3 linked regions of the Homo sapiens genome follow. The protein of the gene in region 1 interacts with the protein of each later gene in a biochemical or structural test. Each region holds a gene or a part of one and is shown in the gene's direction. Other genes may lie near its edges.

The links. The genes of interacting proteins can lie anywhere in the genome.
Region 2: the proteins of EIF4E (region 1) and EIF4EBP3 form a complex in vitro, tested with the Homo sapiens proteins (2 studies listed by IntAct, with this or other methods).
Region 3: the proteins of EIF4E (region 1) and IPO7 form a complex in vitro, tested with the Homo sapiens proteins (one study listed by IntAct).

What each region holds. Positions count from the first base shown.
Region 1 is NC_000004.12:98,926,000-98,933,759, reverse strand, and holds the start of EIF4E (eukaryotic translation initiation factor 4E), read left to right. Parts: upstream 1-4,626; 5' UTR 4,627-4,647; coding exon 4,648-4,665; exon of another isoform or gene 4,666-4,787; coding exon of another isoform or gene 4,788-4,865; intron 4,866-7,760. UniProt on the Homo sapiens protein: Acts in the cytoplasm to initiate and regulate protein synthesis and is required in the nucleus for export of a subset of mRNAs from the nucleus to the cytoplasm which promotes processes such as RNA capping, processing and splicing.
Region 2 is NC_000005.10:140,542,519-140,550,076, forward strand, and holds EIF4EBP3 (eukaryotic translation initiation factor 4E-binding protein 3), read left to right. Parts: upstream 1-5,143; 5' UTR 5,144-5,219; coding exon 5,220-5,322; intron 5,323-6,387; coding exon 6,388-6,558; intron 6,559-6,715; coding exon 6,716-6,744; 3' UTR 6,745-7,058; downstream 7,059-7,558. Other genes in the region: ANKHD1-EIF4EBP3 protein, read left to right, coding at 6,388-6,558, 6,716-6,719. UniProt on the Homo sapiens protein: Repressor of translation initiation that regulates EIF4E activity by preventing its assembly into the eIF4F complex: the hypophosphorylated form competes with EIF4G1/EIF4G3 and strongly binds to EIF4E, leading to repression of translation.
Region 3 is NC_000011.10:9,379,518-9,387,651, forward strand, and holds the start of IPO7 (importin-7), read left to right. Parts: upstream 1-5,134; 5' UTR 5,135-5,246; coding exon 5,247-5,330; intron 5,331-8,134. UniProt on the Homo sapiens protein: Functions in nuclear protein import, either by acting as autonomous nuclear transport receptor or as an adapter-like protein in association with the importin-beta subunit KPNB1.

The sequences.
Region 1 (7,760 bases):
CTCTAAACAAACAAACAAAAACTCTTTGCACCCTATAATTGTAAAAGCATAAAATGTTGGCACACGGATATATTAGAATAGCAGAAGAGGTTTCCCTTAAAAAATTTTTTTCTTTTTCTTTTTCTTGATTTTCTTTTAAAAATCAAGGTGCCTTTTTAGCCAGTAGGTAGTGCCTCAGTCTCATAAAAATCACCAAGGAGAGAGTAAACAAAAAACTAACTAGAATAATAAAATAATTTTTTAAATTCCAATTCTGCTCCAATCTTTTAATATTCAAAATTCCTTGGTCATGTTTGCGTACATCCCATGTTTTTAAGCAATGTCCTGAGTAGGTAATGGGAATTGGTGTCTCTCAAACTGTAAAATTAAAATAAGGGTTCACAGTGGCTCAGGCCTGTAATCCCAGCACTTTGGCAGGCCGAGGCGGGCAGATCACGAAGTCAGGAGTTCGAGACCAGGCTGGCCATCTCTACTAAAAATACAAAAGTTAGCCAGGTGTGGTGGCACGCACCTGTAGTCCCAGCTATTTGGGAGGCTGAGGCAGGAGGATCGCTTGAACCCAGGAAGCAGAGGTTGCAGTGAGCCAAGATCTGGGCAACAGAGTGAGACTGCATCTCGGGAAAAAAAAATTACATTTGAGTTTTCCCCAAATATTTGATAGCAATCTATCTACAAATCATCAATGAGCTAATATTTTAGTAGTAGGGTCAATCAACAACTAATTAAATAATGTTTAACAGCAAGTTTAGAGTTAGGGTTATGAAGTGGCCTAAAGAAAACCAAAGCAGAGTGAGGGGATAAAGAGTAATGGAAACAGTAATTTAGATAGGGTGGTCAAGGAAGCCTTCCTTCAGGAGATCACATTGGAACAGAGGCCTGGATGAAATGAGGGAAGGAAGTATATGATTCGCTCATTCATTATGTGAATGTGTGCTGGTTATGGTGCTTGTTAACTGCATCCTCTTGGTTCTTAGTCACACCTCTTTATATGGGTACTGAACTATTTATATTTCTATGACTTAGTACGCCAACCAGATTTTACAGTCGGGGAAGGAAGTGCCTGTACTTCCTGTGTCCTTTAAATATCCTCCACTGGTTACATAGTTCCCATTACTAACTTAGTACTTGTTGGATGGTTTCTGGTCAGTTCTGTAAATGAACTTGGAATTACAAGTCCTTTGAAGAGCAATAAAGAATAATAGAGAATAAATAGAGAAATAAAACATAAAATTTCAGCTCTATATATTTAGGATTGGCAAAAACAAAACAAAACAACCACATACACACATACATAAAAACCTAATCGTTAAATCTTTGAAATGGTAGAATCTCAAATAGGCAAAGACACATTAATGGTCATAAAACACACACAACAAAGTATATACAAAAATGGAGATTTTCCTGAAACTCTGTGCTTGAAAATTATAAAGAAAAATTGTTGAAAACTATGTAAAAAATGGAAAGAAACTAAACCATAAAGAATAGAGCATCCATAAGTATTGTAAAAGTATGAGTCTTGGTTGACAAGAGGGAGTTTTTTTTTTTTTTTTTTTTTTGAGACTGAGGGAGTGCAGTGGCGCGATGTCCGCTCACTGCAAGCTCCACCTCCTGGGTTCACTCCTTTCTCCTGCCTCAGCCTGCCGCGTAGCTGGGACTACAGGCGCCTGCCACCATGCCCAGCTAATTTTTGTATTTTTAGTAGAGACGGGGTTTCACCGTGTTAGCCAGGATGGTCTCGATCTCCTGACCTCGTGATCCGCCCGTCTTGGCCTCCCAAAGTGCTGGGATTACAGGCATGAGCCACCGTGCCCGGCCCGAGTTTTTTGATTAACAGAAAATTTAATAAAAATGGAAACTGTTGTTTAAAAAAAGTTTTAAGAACATCACTGGCTTTCAGTCCTATAGGTATTTTCTTGCCAATCTCATTGATTTTTTGCTGTTATATAACAGCTTCATGAAAATAGGACATCTGGCCAGGAATGGTGGCTCATGCCTGCAATCTCAGCACTTTGGGAGGCCCAGGTAGGGGGACCGCTTGAGCCCAGGAGTTTGAGACCAGCCTGGGGAACATAGCTAGACGCTCCTGTCTCTGCAAAATATAAAAAAATTAGCTAGGCATGGTGGCCCATGCCTGTAGTCCTAGCTACTTGGGAAGCTAAGGTGGGAGGACCCCTTGAACCCAGAAGGTCAAGGCTGCAGTGAGCCATAATCATGCCACTGCACTCCAGCCTGGGTAACAGAGCAACACCCTGAAAAGACAAAAAGAAAGGAAGGAAGGAAGGAAGGAAGGAAGGAAGGAAGGAAGAGAGAGAGAGAGAGAGAATGGGAGGGGAGGGGAGGGAGGGGAGGGGAGGACAGGGGAGGGGAGGGGAAGAGAAGGGAAGGGAAGGGAGGGGAAGGGTAGGGAAGGGAGAGGAAGGGTGGGGAAGGGTGGGGAAGGGGAAAATAGGACATCTATGCTGTCTTTTTCTCTTCAAAGAAGGTAACCTGACACCACTTCTAACCAGCAGAAAATAACAACGCGGTCAACAGAATTATTTTGGATAGTCTAAGTAACAGTAGATAGTCTCTGTAAGTAGAAATCCACTTATCCGTTTATTATCATTTTTTTTTTTTTTTTGGAAATGGAGTCTCACTGTGTCGCCCAGACTGGAGTGCAGTGGCGGGATCTTGGCTCACTGCAACCTCCACCTCCCAGGTTCAAGTGATTCTCCTGCCTCAGCCTCCTGAGTAGCTGAGACTACAGGCAGGTGCCACTATGCCTGGCTAATTTTTGTATTTTTAGTAGAGACAGGGTTTCACCATGTTGGTCAGGCTGGTCTCGAACTCCTGACCTCAGGTGATCCGCCCGCCTTGGCCTCCCAAAGGGCTGTGATTACAGGCGTGGGCCACTGCGCCTGGCCTGTTAATTCTATCTACTTTAAAACCTAGTAGAGCTAAGCCCACTAGACAAAAGCTTTCATTAATCACTTCTGATATTCAGGTAAACCAAAACATATGAACAGGCAATGGCTTTGAGTTCTCATACAGCCTCAATTATGTGTTAGTCAACTCAAGCATCCATTATGTACTCAATAATAGGTATGACACAGCTCTGGACCTCATTAACACTATAAGCAGACAGGCACAGGCAGCCTGCATACACTCCTTTTCCTGGTGTCAACATTATTTAAAAGCATGGGAAATAGTAATGAGACAGTGTCTTCTTCATTAGAACCTTAGGAGTCTACTAGATTTCTTCATCTCTATTTGTTGTTATTAGTAGCCAAACTGTGCAAAAAACACGGTCTTGAGAAATGACAGCACAGTATCTTAGAGGGAAAGGAAATGTAGGATGCCAGTGTGGGGACAAATTTCTGATTGCCAGTGATTGTTGTGAGCATAACAATAATTTCATGAACATTAAAGCCTCTATTGAGGGCAGCTGCAGTTGTAAAGGAAAAAAAATGGTCCTGAACATTTAAAACTACACTGGTGTACATCATAATCAAACAAAGTAAACAGAAAAAAATTTAAACTTTGCTAAAAAAAAAAAGCAGAAGCACTTGATCTTTAGGAAGGCACGCAGTTGCTTATTATGAATCATTTCTAGAGTCCGATGCATTTTCAAAGCCGGTTACAGTCATTACGAAGCACACCCTTGTGAGGTAAGTGTATCATCACCTTTGGTTCATAAATAAAAAAGCTGAGACGCCGAGCGATTAAGTCACTCGCCTAAGGAGAATGAGTCAACGTCAAGAGTCATAGTTGACCCGGCCTAAAGACTCCAGACCATCAGTCCAGGGCTTAGTCAGCGGGGCCCGGAGTGGCTTCCCTGGCTGGCATCTGGACTTAGGCTATTTCCGTGCACGTAAAAGCGGAATATTGGAACGGTTGCACAGAACTTCCAAATAATTTTTACCGCCACGCAAGATTTAGCCCTGAGGTCTTAATCTCAGGATTTGGGACAGTAAAAGCTGTCGTCCCTCCCCCTCGTCCAGCCGGTGGCAAGCGGGTACTGCGGGCGGTTCCGTCCGTCCCCTTTCGCAGAAATGGCAACGAATGACCACCAGCATTAGCTGAGCCAGGGGACGTGGGAGGGTTGATTGCCTAAACGACTCTGCATCGCCGCCTCTTTTTGAAACTAAGAGAAAATGGTGGGAGATCAAAAGAAAACTAAATAAACACACAGGCAACTTGTCCTGGGACCTCAACTAAGCAAATGAAGCCTTATTGTGTGTGCTGAGCCTGCAGTTCCCAACCTTCCGGGGAAGATGGGAGGACAGGGCGACAAAGGGCACAGTAGGCTTGCCTGGCAGTAAGTGTGACCGCAGCTATCCAGGCGGAAGAGCAGAGGACTGAAACCACCCTCCAGCAAGCGAGTGTCCGCCGCGTTGAGAACCGCGCACCCTACCCATCGGCCACGTGACCAGTCCTTTTTAAAAAAAATTTCTTTACCTTAAAAAAAAAAAAAAAAAAAAGGTGGGGGAGAGACTCCACTTCCCAGAAGCCTCTCGTTACTCACGCAGCCGCAGTCTTGCGCAGGTGCCGCCAGGGCCAAACGGACATATCCGTCACGTGGCCAGAAGCTGGCCAATCCGGTTTGAATCTCATTTTTTTCCTCTTACCCCCCCTTCTGGAGCGGTTGTGCGATCAGATCGATCTAAGATGGCGACTGTCGAACCGGTGAGTATTGCCTTTGGCCCCCACCCCCACGGGTCCCCGCGCTCCGTCTTCCTTCTGACTGGGGGACTCCGCGGGACGGCGTTCCCGGCGCGCACTGTACCCCTTGCCGCCCCTTCCCCTTCATGTTGGACCTGACCTCCCGCGGACAAGTGGGGACGTCCCGGAGGATGGCCGAGGCGGCGTGTAGCGCACACTTTCTGGTGGGGGCCCGAGAACTGGGGGAGCGGTGTGGGGGAGGGGCGGCGTGGCGCCTCCTGCGGAACCGCGAGGTGTCTACAGGGTGGAGGGTAGCTGGGGTTCTGGGCTGGGTATGCGAGGATGGTGTCTTCATGATAGGAAGGCGCAGGGCCGGCTCCCAGCGAGTACTGGGATCCGCAGGCAGGGTGGGCGGCGAGCCGGCCTGGAGTGAGATGGAGGAGGGAGCCCTGGAGCAGCCTTTCCCTCCCTGCAGAACCCCAGCTCCGGGGCTCGGGTGCGGGGCGCGCGCACGTCTTCCTTAGACCGGTGGACTGGGGAGCTGGTGGGCGAGTGTTGCCGGAGGGTGGGTTAGGCGGGAGTGGTGCCGCGGCACGCGCGGAGGAGCTTCGACCTCGCTTAGGGGAGTTGAGAGGGGCGAGCGTCTGTTAATCCAGCGCGCCGGAGAGTTGCCGGTGTTTGCGCCAGGGGAAGCGAGAAAGGTCTGGGGTGGGAAGGAACACTCGTGTGTCACGGTGAAGCTCTCCAAGTAGAATGAGGGATGGTGGTGGTGAGAAGGGGTATCACATTGTCCTCGCCCCTCCATGCTTGGGACTGGGCTGTCATGGAGGAGGGAAGGGGGAGGAGCGAGGCCTACAGATCGCTGTAGCCGGTCGGCTTGCCGGCCGGACCTGCTGCATTTCACACGCGCCCGTCTTCCATTCATTCATCCTTTCCGCGTAGTGCGCACGCCTCAGAGAATGCGAATGGGTCTCAATCCCTCTGTTCTTCCGAGTCTTTATCTCCTGGAAGATTTCTGAGACGCAGTTTATTGGAAATAGAAACTTTTAAATTTACTTTTCCATTTGACTTTTTTTTTCTCTTTATCTATGCTACAGACTTTCATTTCAATTTAGGCACCATTTTAAACTTAACTGAAGCAAGCTGGTCCCAGGGTAGGTTTGTAGTTAATCTTTAAGCAGAGGGTATATTTTTCATAATTTGGGTTTGCCAGGACTGGCTCACTGAAACTTCTGGGCCCTGTTGCCTTTTTAGAAACGACACAGCTAAGTGAAGATATCTTGTGTGCATAATGGGGTTTATTAGCAATCAGAAAACCTTTCACACTCTGGAACCAGCTCTAGACCTTGGTTGCCAGATACTTTTGTGTATCTTTTCATGGTAGCTTGTGGTTTTGCTAATGGTTTACCAGTTTGCTTTGACTTTTAAAGACTTTTTTTTTTTTTTTTTTTTTTTTTTTTTTTTGAGATGGAGTCTTGCTTTGTCGCCCAGGCTGGAGTGCAGTGGCGTGATCTCGGCTCACTGCAACCTCCGCCTCCGGGTTCAAGCGATTCTCCTGCTTCAGCCTCTTGAGTAGCTGGGATTACAGGTGCGCACAACCGTGCCTGGCTAATTTTTGTATTTTTAGTAGAGACGGGGTTCCACCATGTTGGCCAGGCTGGTCTGAAACTCCTGACCTCAAGTGATCCTCCCGCCTCAGCCTCCCAAAGTGCTGGGATTACAGGCGTGAGCCACAGCACCCGGCACTTTTAAAGACTTTTATAAAACTATTTCAAAAACTCTTATAGACTACACAAAGGCTTATTTTTCATTGCGTTGGTGTAAACTATCCTTACCTTGTCAAAATTCAAGGCAGCTTCTCTGCTTGCTTACTTGTTTTTTTATTGGCACCAGTTTTCATTTATGTTCCTGGGAATTAAATTGACTGAAAAACTCATAAGTTGTTGCTACAGTTAACTGACTTTAGGACATTAATATTACATAACACTAATGAAGAATAAGTATGTAAAATATACATTTTAAACCCCTTGACAGGTTCTGATGTCCACTTTTGTCTAGATCTGTTCCTACCCCACTACACTAGTGTCAGTAAAAAGCATTACATCTGGTAATAGGGGCAAGGCTACGAGACTGTAAACTATAAAACAATAAGGAGTTCTGTGAGGTTTCTGTCACATTTAGGTCCCTTGAGTTTTGCAGAGTTTATGCAGTTTTGTTTCAGCAGCACAGAGCGGAACTGCAAAGTGATGAAGGACTATATTTTGAGTTAGTAAATATTAATAGCTCCTGATATATCCAGGGTGTTGTACCAAGTGTTCTTTAGGATACAAAGTTATACAAGATGTGAGTCTTGTTGAATGTAAACCCTTAAGGAACTTAATTCCTAGGGATGTGGTTAGTGATACAGTATTTGTTCTGGTACAGACTTTGGGAGATTTGGATGTTATGTTTAAATTTGGGGAGTAGGGGAACCTAAAAACAAAGTGTGTGAAGCTGGAAACTAAAGTATTTTGAGAATATATGTAAAATAGTATCGAAGTGTTTAGTTTTAGTGAGAAATGAATTTTTTTTTTTTCGATACTGACTTTCACTCTTGTTGCCCAGGCTGGAGTGCAATGGCGCGATCTTGGCTCACCGCAACCTCCGCCTCCTGGGTTCAATCGATTCTCCTGCCTCAGCCTTCCGAGTAGCTGGGATTACAGGCATGTGCCACCACGCCCGGCTAATTTTGTACTTTTAGTAGAGATGGGGTTTCTCCATGTTGGTCAGGCTGGTCTTCAACTCCCGACCTCAGGTGATCCGCCCGTCTTGGCCTCCCAAAGTGGTGGGATTACAGGCATGAGCCACCGCGCCTGGCCTGAAAATTTTTAGTACTTTTAATATACCCTTGTGCACAGGCTAGTTATGTGGAATTATTTTTGACAGTTTTAAATAGTTGGATTTTGTGTGTAGGGGTGCAGGATCTTGCTCTGTTGCTGGGGCTGGAGTGCAGTGGCGCGATCATAGCTCACTGCAGCCTCAAACTCCTGGGCTCAAGAGATGCTTCCATCTCAGCCTCTGGTGTAGCAAGCACTACAGGAGCAGGCCACCACGCCCGGATAATTTTTAAACTTTTTGTA
Region 2 (7,558 bases), on another chromosome or scaffold:
CCCCATCTCTACTAAAAATACAAAAGTTAGCCAGGTGTGGTGGCATGTGCCTGTAATCCCAGCTACTCAGCAGGCTGAGGCAGGAGAATCGCTAGAACCCAGGAGGTGGAAGCTGCAGTGAGCCAAGATCACGCTACTGCACTCCAGCCTGGGCAACAGAGCAAGACTCTCTCTCAAAAAAAAAAAAAAGAAAAGAAAAGAAAAGAAAGGGAAAGGCTGGCTACATTATAATTTCAAGCCAGAGAGAGGAGTACTTAGTATATGTGGTTCCTTCCCACTGTTTAAGACCTTTGGGGCCGGGTGCGGTGGCTCATGCCTGTAATCCCAGCACTTTGGGAGGCTGAAGCGGGTGGATCACCTGAGGTCAGGAGTTCGAGACCAGTCTGGGCAACATGGTGAAACCCCGTCTCTACTAAAAATACAAAAATTAGCCGGGCGTGGTGGCATGCACCTGTAATCCCAGCTACTCAGAAGGCTGAGGCAGGAGAATCGCCTGAACCCAGGAGGCGGAGGTTGCAGTGAGCTGAGATCATGCCATTGCACTCCAGCCTGGGTGACAAGAACGAGACTTCGTCTCAAAAAAAAAAAAAAAAAAGACCTTTGGACCACATTGTAAATCCAAGAAAAGGCAAGCAAGCTTGTAGGAAAACAGCTTCTGAATGAACATCTTGTTCTCTGACTAGCAAGAAGTATTTCTACCAAGACATACAACTGGTTATGATGTCTTCCCAGTGGACCCTGCCCCCTATAGTGAGGGGCTCTGGTAATGCTGCATTTTCTATTTATCCTCAGTGATTTGTCATTTGCAAACAGGCAGGTTCATGCGCCTCCATCCTCTCCTTTAGGCAATGGGTGAGAGAAAGGTGGTTTTAAGCATCAAAAACTTAAGTGTGTTAAGACCACCTCCAATAAAAGGCATGACCCTGGGCTTCAACACCTAATTTGGAAAAGATCATGAATCAGACGATCTTGTTTGCAAACCTATTTTGTGATTACTTTTCACATTCTGTTTTATCTTGATGGTATATTAATGTGAATCCAAAGTAATTTGCCTGATAACAGAGACCTGGTATTTCCTTATAGGCTTAATCAGATCTCTGGGGGTGGGGCCTGGGCATAGGTATTTTTTTTAAACACTTCCATATTCTAATAGGTAATTAGTTGTTTTTTGTTTTTTGTTTTTTAATGAGACAGAGTCTCACTCTGTTGCTTAGGCTGGAGTGCAGTGGCGCCATGTTGGCTCACTGCAACCTCCGCCTCCTGAGTTCAAGCAATTCTCCTGCCTCAGCCTCCCAAGTAGCTGGGATTACAGGTGCACACCACCACACTTGGCTAATTTTTGTATTTTTAGTAGAGATGGGGTTTCTCCATGTTTGCCAGGCTGGTCTTGAACTCCTGACCTCAAGTGATTTGCCCGCCTCAGCCTCCCAGAGTGCTGGGATTACAGGCGTGAACCGCCTTGCCCAGCCAGTAATTAGTATTGACCCTCTGATTTAAATTCTTGTTTCTTCATCCAGATTGCATGGATGATGAATCTGGCTTTCTCTCTAAAGCCAATTACCTATTCCCCAGCCCTTACAGCACACAGTGACTCCAGAAGAGTTAGCTGCAAGCAGTAGTCATTATAGTAGTAGTAACTGTGGCTATTATTTTGTGGTAGAGATTAGTAGAAGGAAGACCTCACTTCGACAATGACCGTTCTTGAAAACTTTTGATACTTTTCTCCTGATTTTCCTATTTCCGACTCATCTTTCTCAGTCTCTTTTGGTGAATTCTTTTTCTCTACTATCTTTTAAATAAATAAATGTTGATGTGCCCAGGCTTCTACACTGTATCTTCTCCCCAGATGATCTCATCCCACATTTATTTATTTATAAATAGAGATAGGGTCTTGCTGTATTGCCCAGGTCTTGAGCTCCTGGGCTCAAGCGGTCCTCCCACCTCAGCCTCCCAAAATGCCAGAATTAACAGATGTGAGCTACCGATCCTAGCCCATCCCCACACTCTTGAATTTCACACCACCCAAATTTGAGCCACTAACTCAGAGTTCTCCCCATGGCTTCACTATATCTAGCTTCCTCCTGTGCTCCATCTGAACACATATTATTCATTCCCTCATATAAGATATGCTGCTCTTCTTGTTTTCCCTATCATATTAGTTGGTGCTACTAGCCACCAAGACTCTCAAGCCAAAAGACTGAAAATTATCCTAGTTTACACTTTCCCTCACCCCACTCTTAATCAGTCACTTTATTCTTCCTCTGTGTATCTGAATCTCATCCACTTCTCTCCATCCTCACAGCCATCGCCCGTTTGCCCACCTGGTTTCACTAGACTGGACTCTACCCTCAAATCTCACCATCCTCCACCCTATTCTCCCATTCCCCCTGTCAGACACTTCCTCACGTTGCATAAAAGGTTAGTTATCATAAATGATTCACTACAATCTGTTCCCAAGCTTTACCCTCCAGCACTGCTAAGACACTTCATTTTGGCATGCACCATTTTGTAAGATACTCAAAATCCTTTTCGGGACAATAAAATATACATACCCTTGATACCTGAAGTGTGTTTCTGAGGCCCTGAAGCGTTTGCATTACTGTATTAAAAACTCACAGTTGCAGTCAGGCCCGGTGGCTCATGCCTGTAACTCCAGCACTTTGGGAGGCCAAGCCAGGCAGATCACTGGAGATCAGGAGTTCGAGACCAGCTTGGCCAAGATAGTGAAACCTGATGTCTGCTAAAAATACAAAAAATTAGCCCGGTGCGGTGGTGGGTTCCTGTAATTCCAGCTACTCAGGAGGCTGAGGCAGGAGAATCGCTTGAACCCAGGAGGCAGAGGTTGCAGTGAGCTGAGATCATGCCACTGAACTCTAGCCTGGGTGACAGAGCAAGACTCCATCTTAAAAAAAAAAAAAAACCAGCCAGGTGTGGTGGCTTATGCCTGTAATCGTAGCACTTTGGGAGGCCGAGGCAGGCTGATCACCTGAGGTCGGGAGTTCAAGACCAGCCTGACCAACATGGAGAAACTCTGTTTCTACTAAAATTACAAAATTAGCTGGGTGTGGTGGTACATGCCTGTAATCCCAACTACTCAGGAGGCTGAGGCAGGAGAATCGCTTAAACCCGGGAATCGGAGGTTGCGGTGAGCCAAGATCATGCCATTTGGGCGGCAAGAGCGAAACTCCATCTCAAAAAAAAAAAAAAAAAATCCACAACTGGCTGGGCACGGTGGCTCATGCCTGTAATTCTTGTTTCGGAGGATGCCTGTTTGGGAGGATCGCTTGGGCCCACAAGTTTGAGACCAGCCTGGGCAACATAGTGAGACCCCGCCTTTACAAAAAATTTAAAAATTAGCCAGGTACAGTGGCATGCACCTGTGGTCCCAGCTATTGAGGACACTGAAGTGGGAGGGTCACCTGAGCCCAGGAGGTTGAGGCTGCAGTGAGCCATGATTGTACCACTACACTCCAGCTTGGGTGACAGTGAGACCCTGTGTCAAAAAAAAAAAAAAATCCAAAATCTCACCCAGACCAATACTGTATCAGAATTATCATTTTAACAATATCTCCAGATGATTTATATGCACATTAAAGTTTGAGAAGCTGGCCAGGTGTGGTGGCTCACACCAGCACTTTGGGAGGCCGAGGCAGATAGGTTACTTGAGCTCAGGAATTCGAGACCAGCCTGGGCAACATGGTGAAACCTTGTCTCTATAAAAAATCCAAAAATTAGCCCGGTGTGGTGGTGGGCACCTGTGGTCCCAGCTACTCAGGAGGCTGAGGTGGGAGGATGGCCTGAACCCAGGAGGCAGAGTTTGCATTGAGCTGAGATTACACCACTGCATTCCAGCCTAGGCAGCAGAGCAAAACCCTATCTCAGAAAATAAATAGTTTGAGAAGCAATCTTTTTTTAAATGAGTGAAGAAATCAGACCTAAGGAGAAATCTGATGAAGCCAGAGCTGAGTTAATATTGATAAATGGATGCAGTCAGGTGGTCTATACTTAATTTTTGGTGAGGGGAAGGGACAGTGGAGGCAGTATTGATTTTGAGGAAGCCAAACAGGACAGCCTGATGAATTCAAGATTTCCAGCATATATACATCTTCACCAATCCCACCACCTTGCTCCAGCCTGTCATATCACTGTGTCTACATAAAAAAAAAAAACAAAAAAAAAACTCCAAGGCCAAACTCTCTGACCTTTCTTTCCTTCTAAAGACCAAGCCCTCCTCACTAGCCCCCTGCCCCTCCTTAGTTAACTGGCAAAGAGATCAAAGGGCAGGCCTTCTGACTGGTGATGCCTCAGCTGTAGCCCCCAAACTTGACTCATCCTTTTATTAGTCCAGGTACCACTTCTTCAGAAAGATGACCAGCCCTCACTGACCTTCCCCTTCCTGCTGTGCTCCAGGCCATCAAGGCATGTGTCACCCAGGCTGGAGTGCAGTGGTGCAATCTCCGCTCACTGCAACCTCCGCCTCCTGGGTTCAACCTATCCTTCCACCTCAGCTTCCCGAGTAGCTGGGTCTACAGGCGCATGCTGCCGCACCCGGCTAATTTTTGTATTTTTAGTAGAGTCTAGGTTTCACCATGTTGCCCAGGCTGGTCTCAGACTCCTGGGCTCAAGCTATCCACCCGCCTTAGCCTCCCAAAGTGCTGGGATTACAGGCCGTGAGCCACCGCACCCGGCCTTGTACTGTTACTGTTTATGGGAGGCAGTACACAGCTGGGCTTAAGGGCACAGTCCTGGAATCAGATGCAGTCAGATTTGAATCCCAGCTTCCCTTCCTGCAAGATGTGTGACTTTGGCTAATCATAGTGCTTTACTATCCAAAAGTTGGCAAGGAATGGGTGAACTAATACAGGATAAAAACGCTTGCCCTACTTCACCTGCCCCCAGCTCCCGGCTATAAACAGTAAATAGCTGAGCTGCTGCAGCACTCAGGCAGGTTGGCCAGCGCTGGGCCAGCAGGAACTGGAAGCTGGTGTGGGGCCTGGGACTTTGGACGCATTTCCAGCTTTCTCTGAACCGGGCTGGCTTCCTAGCAGATAGGGCGGGACCGTCGGGTTGAGTGACGGCCGGTGGCCCGCCCTGGGCGTGACGTTGTTCTAGTGTTGTTGCCAGCAGCTGCACGTGGTCGGCTGAGTCCGCCTCAGACTCAGAGCTGCGCTCCTCGACCTCAACGCCAGGCGGTTACTTTGCTGCTCCTCCCGCTCGCTATGTCAACGTCCACTAGCTGCCCGATTCCCGGGGGCCGGGACCAGCTGCCCGACTGCTACAGCACCACGCCGGGGGGCACGCTATACGCCACTACCCCCGGAGGTCAGCGGGCCGGGCAGGGGTCCGCAGGCTGCGGACATATTAGCGCGTGCGTGTTGTTGCGGGGCGGGGGTAGGGGAGGGACAGACCTAAGACTTGTCCGCAGGCCCCTCTACAGGTTGTAGCTTTGGGGGAGAATGTTTGGAGCGGAAGCTCAGTTCCCAAAAACTTCTAAGTGATGCAACAAGGCCATGAGCCTAGCTTCCGGGTGTTTGGGCTGTAATCCTTCACTGTGGCCTGGGTTCTTGGAGCCTTACACACGCTCCTTACCCCTCGCGACTTTGCTTCCTAGGAATAGGGGCCAGGGCCCCCTACTGAGCGTGACCTCAGCCGGAAGCACCGGGTCTTGAGAAGTGGAGTAGTTAGAACAGTTGGGGCAGTTGCTCCGTTTTTGTGCTGCTGGCTGGCGTCTGTTTGGTTGGGCGAGCAGCCTGGGATCACGAGCTGCTGGGCTCCCGACCCAGGGATTCCTGCCACGCGGAAGCGGAGGGGAGGAACAGGGCAGGACCCTTTGAGGACATTATGCGGGCCAAGTTCCTCTGAGCTAGTGTGAACCTTATAGGACCTGGGAGGGGTCAGGATTAGAACAGTACGTTTCTCCTCCCTGCAGGAGATAGCCCAGGTAACAGCACTGGGTGGAACCCTTCACAACTGCTATTTCACTTCTTGAACCACCTGAGGCTGTTAGTCTAGGTCTCACCTTCACTGGTGAGACCAAAGCAGAGGTTTCAGAGTGGTAGAGGAGCAGCATGAAGTACCTGAACTCAAAGTTTGGTGTTCCTCTTAGAGCCAAGATCTGAAGCTCTCCCAAACATAAAGCCCCTGCCTATACCAGCTGGGATGCCCCCCTTGCTTTATACCCACATCTTGGTTAGGTCTGGAAGATTTTAAGCACTATGAAGGCTTGTCTGCTGAGAACCTAGCTGGGCTTCAGAGCCGATGTCCTTTGATACACAGGGAAATTTGACACCACCCTCACCTCCAGGCCCCAAAAGGCCTGAGTCTGGGACCCCAGTCACCTCGGTACCCAAGCTCCTGACTCTTACCTCAGTCCCAACCCCTTGACAGGCACCAGGATCATCTACGACCGAAAGTTCCTGCTGGAGTGCAAGAACTCACCCATTGCCCGGACACCCCCCTGCTGCCTCCCTCAGATTCCCGGGGTCACAACTCCTCCAACAGCCCCTCTCTCCAAGCTGGAGGAGCTGAAGGAGCAGGAGACAGAGGAAGAGATACCCGGTAAGGAAAGCAGGAATTAAGAATTGTCCCAGCCTTTGAGTTCAAATGCCACTGTGACACAGTGCGGGGGTTCAGTTCCAAGAGGGGTTTCTGCACTGATGCTGAGCCTGCAGATCCTCAGACCAGCAACCTGTCTTCCTGCCTTTTCTCTCTCCAGATGACGCACAATTTGAAATGGACATCTAATCCAGTGCAGATGACCTGGCATGTGGAGTTACAGAGGGATCCCTCATGCCACTGCTGCCACCACCTCTTCCTGGGGCATCCAAAGGCCAGCTGGCCTCATCTAATCTGGAAGGGAGTGACTTGTTAGTTCCAGGCCTCCTTTAGTTCTGAGGCAGCTAGACCAGGGATAGGAGTGGGCAACTTGCCAAGCCCTTAACTCTACTTCCTCTTCAGTCTGTGGTACTCCTCCTAACCCTAAACCCTCTATGCTCAGGGGCTGGAACTGGGGAATGGAGTAAGTCACCTTCTGACTGCTTAGTAAACATTCAAAGAAATGCCTTGGCTCCAGTGTTCTCCTCAATGCTGATTTTCTCATCTCAGCCACACAGCTGAAGGCCCTGGCAGGCCTGGTTAAGCTCAGAGGCCTCAGATCATTCCCAGCTCCCACCAGGCCCACTTCCAGCAGCAATTAGAACCTGAGGCACGCTACAGTGGCAGGTTACATGAGCCTCCAAACCATAAACAGCAATAGCTTGGCCACTGCCAAGGGCTGTTCCTGTCTTCCCAGGAAGCAGCCTTCCTGGAACCAGGGCCCCCCAGCAGCCCCTCCCCTATCCATTCCAAAGCAGGACTCTTGGAAAAGAGGTGCTGTCCCAGCCTATAGCCATCCTGTCTCTCCCTGTGCCTTTTCTGCTTCCCACCTCTAAGCACCAGTTCCTCTATTCCAACACCAAAAACCTTGTACCCTTCTCACAGCATGATAGTCCACCAAGTACCTCTCTCAAAGGGTTACAAGAGACCTTAGAGTTCACACTGAAACCCAAAATGAGGCAGC
Region 3 (8,134 bases), on another chromosome or scaffold:
ATTGAGCTGGTTAACACAAGCCACCTATAGACAGCAAAACTAAAAGAGCATCCTATAACACACACCCACTGGGGCTTTAGGAACTGTAAACATTCACCAGTAGACACTGCTGTGGGTTCAGAGCCCCACAGCCTTACCCGTCTGTATGTTCCCTGAGAGGTTTGAGCAGTGAGGCACTGAAGAAGGGAGCCACACCGCCATCTCAGACTCTGAGAGGGGGACGAGGGAACTTTTTCCGTGTCAATTATCATCAAGGGTCTCGTCATTGGCATTTACCCACAAAAGCCCCAATGGGGGCCTGTAAAGGGAACACTAATTCTTTCCATTCCCTTATGGTATAACTATCTTTTTTTTTCTTTTTTGAGATGGAGTCTCAATGTGTCTCCCAGGCTGGCGTGCAGTGGTGCGATCTCAGGTCACTGCAACCTCCGCCTACCAGGTTCAAAAGATTCTCCCACCTCAGCCTCCCAAGTAGCTGGGATTACAGGCACGCACCACCACACTGTGGTAATTTTTTTATTTTTACTAGAAATGGAGTTTCACCATGTTGGCCAGGCTGGTCTTGAACTCCTGACCTCAGGTGATCCACCTGCCTTGGCCTCCCAAAGTGCTGGGATTAAAGGTGTGAGCCACTGAGTCAGGCCCAGCTCTTCTTCTTCTTCTTCTTCTTTTTTTTTTTTTTTTTTTTTTTTGAGACGGATCTCACTCTGTCGCCAGGATGGAGTGCAGTGGTGTGATCTCGGCTCACTGCAACCAACCTCCACCTCCTGGGTTCAAGCAATTCTTCTGCTTCATCCTCTTGAGTAGCTGGGACTACAGGTGCACGCCACCATGTCTAGCTGAGTTTTGTATTTTTAGTAGAGATGGGGTTTCACCATGTTGGCAAGGGTGGTCTCTAACTCTCCAACCTCGTGATCTGCCAGCCTCGGCCTCCCAAAGTGCTGAGATTACAGGCATGAGGAGCCACTGTGCCCGGCCGCATCTCTTCTTAATTTTTGTCTAATTTCATCCTACCTCAAAATCAACTCTGAGACTATGGTTTATGCTTTTCTGAATTCTCAGCCTTCACCTTGCCTAAGGAGGCTTAGATACCTGTGTTGGCTGCTGTGCTGGGGATTGGGATTGTGGGACACCATAAGGTTATGTAATTGTGTTTACAGTGGCTTAACAAACCACTTTTTTCATTAGTCTTCTCATACTTATTTATTGAGCACTCATTCATTTCTGTGTCTACCACAAAAAAGATGGATGTGGTCTCTGCCCTAGAGGAGTTCACACTGAAATTTCCAGTCACGTAAGTCACATTCTCTGTGTCACTAGCTTGACAAAATAAAACTAAAATCTACAAATAGGTTGAGTGTGCTAATCACTCTACCAACTAGCTCCTGAATGCTCCCTGGGGCCAAGCTCCTTTTTTGGATACAGGAATGCTGGCTCCCCAGACAGGATCTTGTACCCAGTGTGCTCTGTTCTCTATGAAGGATGAGACACAGGCCCCATGCCAGCTGTAGATCTGCAAGCCTCGTTGGCTCCCTGTTCCCAGCACTACAGCTTAAAACCATATTTTTCACTACCACTTCTTTTCCCTTTCAGTTTTAGGGAGAGGAAACTAACATTTTTGGACTACCTTCTATGTGCCAGGTTCTTTCATATACATTGTGCTCTGCTAAAATCTTCACAATTCCGTGATAAACAAGTCAATTCTGGAATCTAAAATAGGCATATAATATCAGAAAGAGGACTAGCTTTTGAATCATGAAGAATGAAGCTTCAATTCTGGCTCAGCCACCTATAAGTCATTACTAGTTTATTAATTCCTTTCTTCATTTATTCACTTAAAGAATTTTTTAAACTCCTCCTTTACATTCTAACTCTGTGGTAGGAGGTGAGGATACAAAGGTCAATAGAACATAAGCCTGTTTTCAAGGCCTTCACTTTGAGCAGTGGAGCAGGGAGAGGAAAATTCTTTTTATTTCTGAGACGGCGTTTCACTCTTGTTGCCCAGGCTGGAGTGCAATGGCACGATCTCAGCTCACTGCAACCTCCGCCTTCCGGGTTCAAACAATTCAGGGAGAGGAAAATTCTTAAACAGATTGTATTTGTAACACTATTACACTTTTTACAGGTTATTATTATGAAAACTTTCTGACTCCTCACAATTTAAGTAGCCTGAGCCTCGGGTTCTTCATTTGTAAATTTTTTTTTTTTGAGACGGAGTCTTGCTCTGTTGCCCAGGCTGGAGTGCACTGGTGCGATCTCAGCTCACTGCAACCTCTGCCTCCCTGGTCCAGGTGATTCTCCTGCCTCAGCCTCCTGAGTATCTGGGATTACAGGTGAGCACCACCATGCCTGGCTAATTTTTTTTTTTTTTTTGAGACAGAGTCTTGCTCAGTCGCCCAGGCTGGAATGCAGTGGCCCGATCTCGACTCACTGCAAGCTCCACTCCCCGGGTTACGCCATTCTCCTGCCTCAGCCTCCCGAGTAGCTGGGACTACAGGCACCGGCCACCACGCCCGGCTAATTTTTTTGTATTTTTATTTTTATTTATTTATTTATTTTATTTTTTATTTTTTATTTTTTTTGAGACGGAGTCTGGCTCTGTCCGCCAGGCTGGAGTGCAGTGGCGCGATCTTGGCTCACTGCAAGCTCCGCCTCTCGGGTTCGCGCCATTCTCCTGCCTCAGCCTCCCGAGCAGCTGGGACTACAGGCGCCCGCTACCGCGCTCGGCTAATTTTTTGTATTTTCAGTAGAGACAAGGTTTCACCATGTTAGTCAGGATGGTTTCGATCTCCTGACCTTGTGATCCGCCCGCCTCGGCCTCCCAAAGTGCTGGGATTACAGGCGTGAGCCACCGCGCCCGGTCTTTTTTGTATTTTTAGTAGAGAGAGGGTTTCACTGTGTTAGCCAGGATGATCTCGATCTCCTGACCTCGTAATCCGCCCGCCTTGGCCTCCCAAAGTGCTGGGATTACAGGCGTGAGCCACCGGGCCAGGCAATTTTTGTATTTTTAGTAGAGATGGGGTTTTGCCATGTTGGCCAGGCTGGTCTCGAACTCTTGACCTCAGGTGATCCCGCCCACCTCAGCCTCTCAAATTGCTGTGGTTACGGTTGTGAGCCACCATGCCCGGCCTAAATTAGGAATAATTCTGTCTTACTTCCAGTACTTCCAGGCACAGTGGCTGGCATATACAAGGTAGTAACATTGCAAAACCCACCGCTTCAGGGAAAGGCTTTCGTGAGCCTTTCCTTCTCTTTTTTTTGTAAATTAAAAACAATAAGTGATCATTTAACACATTGTATTTGAAGGCTTATAATTAATTTTAAGTATATCTGTTTATATAACTTTGTTACAATAATAACAGATATGAAAGGAAATTACTCCAAATCTCACCATCCTGTTAATAGAAAATAAATTATTTTCATTTGCTAACCTTGCTTTTCAGTCTTTGTCCATGTTACAAAGCTATATCCTTCCATAAATACTTTTTTGTTATATTTTTTAATGGCTGTGAAATATTTAATTTACTGGATTCTTGCTATTTGCTTAACCAGTCCTATATTGTTCAACATTTCTCTTCAGAGGCAGAGTGATTTAGTGGAAACAATGGAAAGTTTGAAAACAAAGATCTTAGGTTTGAAATCTTAGTTGAACCTCTTACTACGTGACCTTGGGTAAGTTATTTAACCTTTCTAAAACAAACTTTTTCTTGGCTGTTATAAAAGAGGACTTTTTCTTTCTTTCTTTCTCCCCCACCTCCCTCTTTTTTTAGAGATGGGGTCTCGCTATGTAGCCCAGGCTGTAGCGTAGTGGCTACTCATAGGCACGATCTTAACAGGCTGTCACCTTGAACTTCTGGTCTCAAGCAATCCTCCTGCCTCAACAGGAGGATTACGCCTGGCTAGGAAGGTGTCTTTTATTTTTATTTATTTATTTATTTATTTTTGAGATAGAGTCTCGCTCTGTCACCCAGGCTGGAGTGCAGTGGCATGATCTCGGCTCACTGCAAGCTCCACCTCCTGGATTCACGCCATTCTCCTGCCTCAGTGTAGCTGGGACTACAGGCGCCCACCACCACACCCGGCTAATTTTTTGTATTTTTAGTAGAGACGGGGCTTCACCGTGTTAGCTAGGATGGTCTCAATCTCCTGACCTTGTGATCCGCCCACCTTGGCCTCCCAAAGTGCTGGGATTACAGGTGTGAGCCACCGCGCCTGGCAGGAAGGTGTATTTTAATAGGGATTATGCTTTTACTCTGCATTAAGAGGTGATTTATATGAAGTCCCAACTAAAATTTGGATACTCAATAAAAAGCCATGATTTCAGTATTTGGTAATTACTAATACGTAATGTGATAAAAACCTTTCACACATAAAGTTCATTTAATCTTCCGTGTTATTGCCTTAGGATAAAGTCTCATAAGTGGAATTACTGGGTCAGAGTTTAAACATTTCGTTTCGTTTTGTTTTTTTGAGACGGAGTTTCGCTCTTGTTGCCCAAGCTGGAGTGCAATGGCACGATCTCGGCTCACTGCAACCTCCGCTTCCCGGGTTCAAGCGATTCTCCTGCCTCAGCCTCCCTAGTAGCTGAGACTACAGGCGCGTGCCACCACGCCCGGCTAATTTTTTGTATTTTTAGTAGAAACGGGGTTTCGCCGTGTTAGCCAGGATGCTCTCGATCTCCTGATCTCGTGATCCGCCCGCCTTGGCCTCCCAAAGTGCTGGGATTACAGGCGTGAACCACCGCGCCCGGCAGTTTAAATATTTTAGTGGCTATCAGAAACACATCTCAAATTGCTTTTCAGAAAGTTTCCTTCAATCACGCAGCCATTAGCAATCGATTGCACCACACACTGTATCTGACTCCCTTTATGAACATTGTGGATATAGTATGTGAAACCTTTTGTAACTGATTGTTTTGCTTTTCTTTTTGTGGAACTTGAACATTTTTCGTTTTTGAACAGAAAGACTTGTCTGTAGGAACGACAGCTCAGGCAGCCACGTGGGCTGCGGACTGTGTTTGTGGACTACATCTCCCAAAGTGCTCCGCAGGCGCGCCCACAGGAAGTCGCCGGAGCATCTCCCGCCTCCACGCCGAGGCGAAGAGGTTCTATCCGGGGCCTTGGCGCTTCTCTTTCCTTTCGCGCCGGTTGCCGCTGCGGAGCGCGGCGGGTCCATGTGCGCAGTGAGTGGCGCTATTCCTGGCCCAGTAGCACCCGAGCCCCGGGTTTGACCGAGTCCGCGCTGCGATGGACCCCAACACCATTATCGAGGCCCTGCGGGGCACTATGGACCCAGCCCTGCGTGAGGCCGCGGAGCGCCAGCTCAATGAAGTAAGGACGCCCGGCTAGCGGTGGCGGCGGGCAGGCGGGTGGGCAGAAGTGGCAGGCCGAGCCCCCGGGGCCTGGCCGGAGGCGCGGACGACGTCGTTGAGGGTCCCAGCAGGAGGGTGGGGCGGACATCTGACGGCGACTTCCACGCCGGGGCGCCTCGGTGTGGTGTGGTGGTGGTGGCTGCAGCCAAGGCTGCCTTTGCTTCGGATCCTGAGCTGGGCCTCTGGCTGCGGTCTAGGCATGAGGAGCCGGCTGAGGCGGGGCGGGCGTGACGGGTTGGACACATGGCTGGCTCGGGTGGCTGGCCGACCTCTGGCTCATTCCCAGCTGGTTCCTCACGTCCAGGAGGGGGCGAAACTTACTGGGAGGTTTTTCAGATGTTTCTGAGACCAGTCTCGCCGTCGCAGGGTTTGGAAGGGCTCCTGGGAATGCCGGCTGGTCCTTTGGGGGCTGCGCCTGTCATCCTTGTCACTTTGCTGGGCTGATCAGTGGCCTGCCTCGGGCACAACTTCCTCCTCTCTGGCTGAGTTGCTAGGGAAGGCTTTCAAAGGCAAGCCCGCGCCTCCTTGGCAGGATAGGAGTAGTGCGGGACACTCACAGAGTCTGATCCCTGCTTTTCCGCTGTCCTAATGCTTCAGTCGGGGAGCTGGCTTATGTAGTGGGAAGGATCAGGTGAAGTGCACCCTTCTAGGTATAGCTGCACCATTGATTCCTTGAGTGACCTTGGGCCAGTCGCTTAACCTCTTGATCCTGAGTTTTTCCCATTCATAAAATTACGCCACAGAGTTGCTGTGACAGACAGGTGAGATAATGTTAAGTCTGAGTGCCTTGGAACATGCTGAGCTCCTTATCAGTTCAGATATTGCATTCTCTGAAGGTTTTTTTTTTCCCCCATATTTTGTGGGGACCGCTCCTTGGAAAACAGCTTAATTGCATGAATATTTATTGTACTATCTCCAGTGTCATTCTTTGTTTCTAAACTTTTGCATTTTTACGTATTAATGATCAGTATTTTAAATCCTTCTTAAAAGGGCTGCTGTAACTTTTCTGCCAGTTAGTAACTGTCCTTCAGCATGCTGCTGAATCTGCCAGCTTTACTGAACTTTAGTGTACATTTTTTAACTGAAAAAGAAATCACACTTTAAAATAGAAATTCAACTATTTTATGCGTCTTTTAGCTGGTAAGTAAATAATTTAAAAACATTGTTTATATTGACTTACCAGAAACAGCAGAAATATTACTAACTGGACTTTCAGTGTAAAGGGCTGCACTAGAGATCCCTGCCCTCACGGAACTTACAGTTCAAGAAGACTACCTACAGAGTTTACACAAATTAAATGTAAAATTATTTCAGAATGTTAAATCTATTTTATATGTAAATGAGATCATTATTATACCACACAAAGTGATGATTACATGTTCAAATTTTTAGACTCAGAGTCACCTTGGGAGGAGCTTAGATTTTTTTGGATATAAAATAGTGAGTTGAACCGTATTACCATTTTGAACCATTACCAAACTATGGAAGGAGCAATGGATCACTTTTTGTTTTGATTTGCTTAGTGATAGACATGGGTTAAGTTGAAAATTATTTTGCTTATTAAATAGTAATGCAGTTACAAGCCTAGAAAAGCTAAAAGTTTAGTCATGGTCATTTCTACCATGACTTTGCTCTAATCGCGTATTATTTTGACTAATTATACTTGCATGTAATTATTAATTTTAAAAGTGAGTACTTGAAGAGTTGGTTTGCTTCTACAAAAATGGGGGAAATAATACTTCCTGAAAATCTGAAATTCATTTATTCCTCAAATAGACATTACATGTCTAGTATATGCACTAACATCTTGTAGTAGAAACCTGGGGTATTTCACAAGCTAGTTTTTGGAAGATAAACAAATGATCAAAATAGTATTCAATGCCTTTTTTACTTAACCATTAAACTACTGTTTTGGAATACTGTCAAACAGTGAACACCGCTAATCTGTCAAAGAAAATTTGTTACATGGCCTTTATTTTTGTAATCCTTAACTATTTACATTTCATACATTTCTTTCAATTATAACACCTAGATTTTTAAATATTCTTCCTAAGGTAAATTTTCTATTAGTATATTTACTTTCATTCCATTTTAATACACTACTTCTCCCTCTCCCTTCTTCCATTTAAATATTTTTTGCTTTGACTTTCTTGTGGCAGAACATTGATTTGGGAGACAGATCTCAGACAAGTCTTGAATATTGTTAAGAATGAGGAAGTAACATTTCTGAAAGGCTCTTGCTTTGGAGAAGATAGAAGAACGAATTATTCTATGATGTCTCTCATTCCAGTGAAGCTGTGTTTTGGTTCATTTAGAACCAAAGAATAAGATCATTGACATTTGAATGAATCTCTTCACAAAGTGAAATAATCACTGACTCAATGTAAAATTTGTAAATGTTATTAAAGTGTTTATAGTATAGACAGTTTCGAAACAAAATAGCCCTTCTGCCTCAGAGTCTTTGCACTTAACTCCTTGGAACTCCTTTCACATAGTTATCCCCCTAACTTGTTCTCTCATTTCCTTCCATCCCTGTTCAAATGTCTCCTTATCACTGAGGAGTTCCTTGACCATCATACTCCCTATCTCCTTTCACTTGTTTTTCTCTATAGCACTGATTTGTCATACATATTTGGCTTACTTTTAAAATTAATTTTATTTGGCCAGGCACGGTGGCTCACGCCTGTAATCCCAGCATTTTGTGAGGCTGAGGCGGACTGATCACTTGAGGTTGGGAGTTTGAGACCAGCCTGACCAACATGG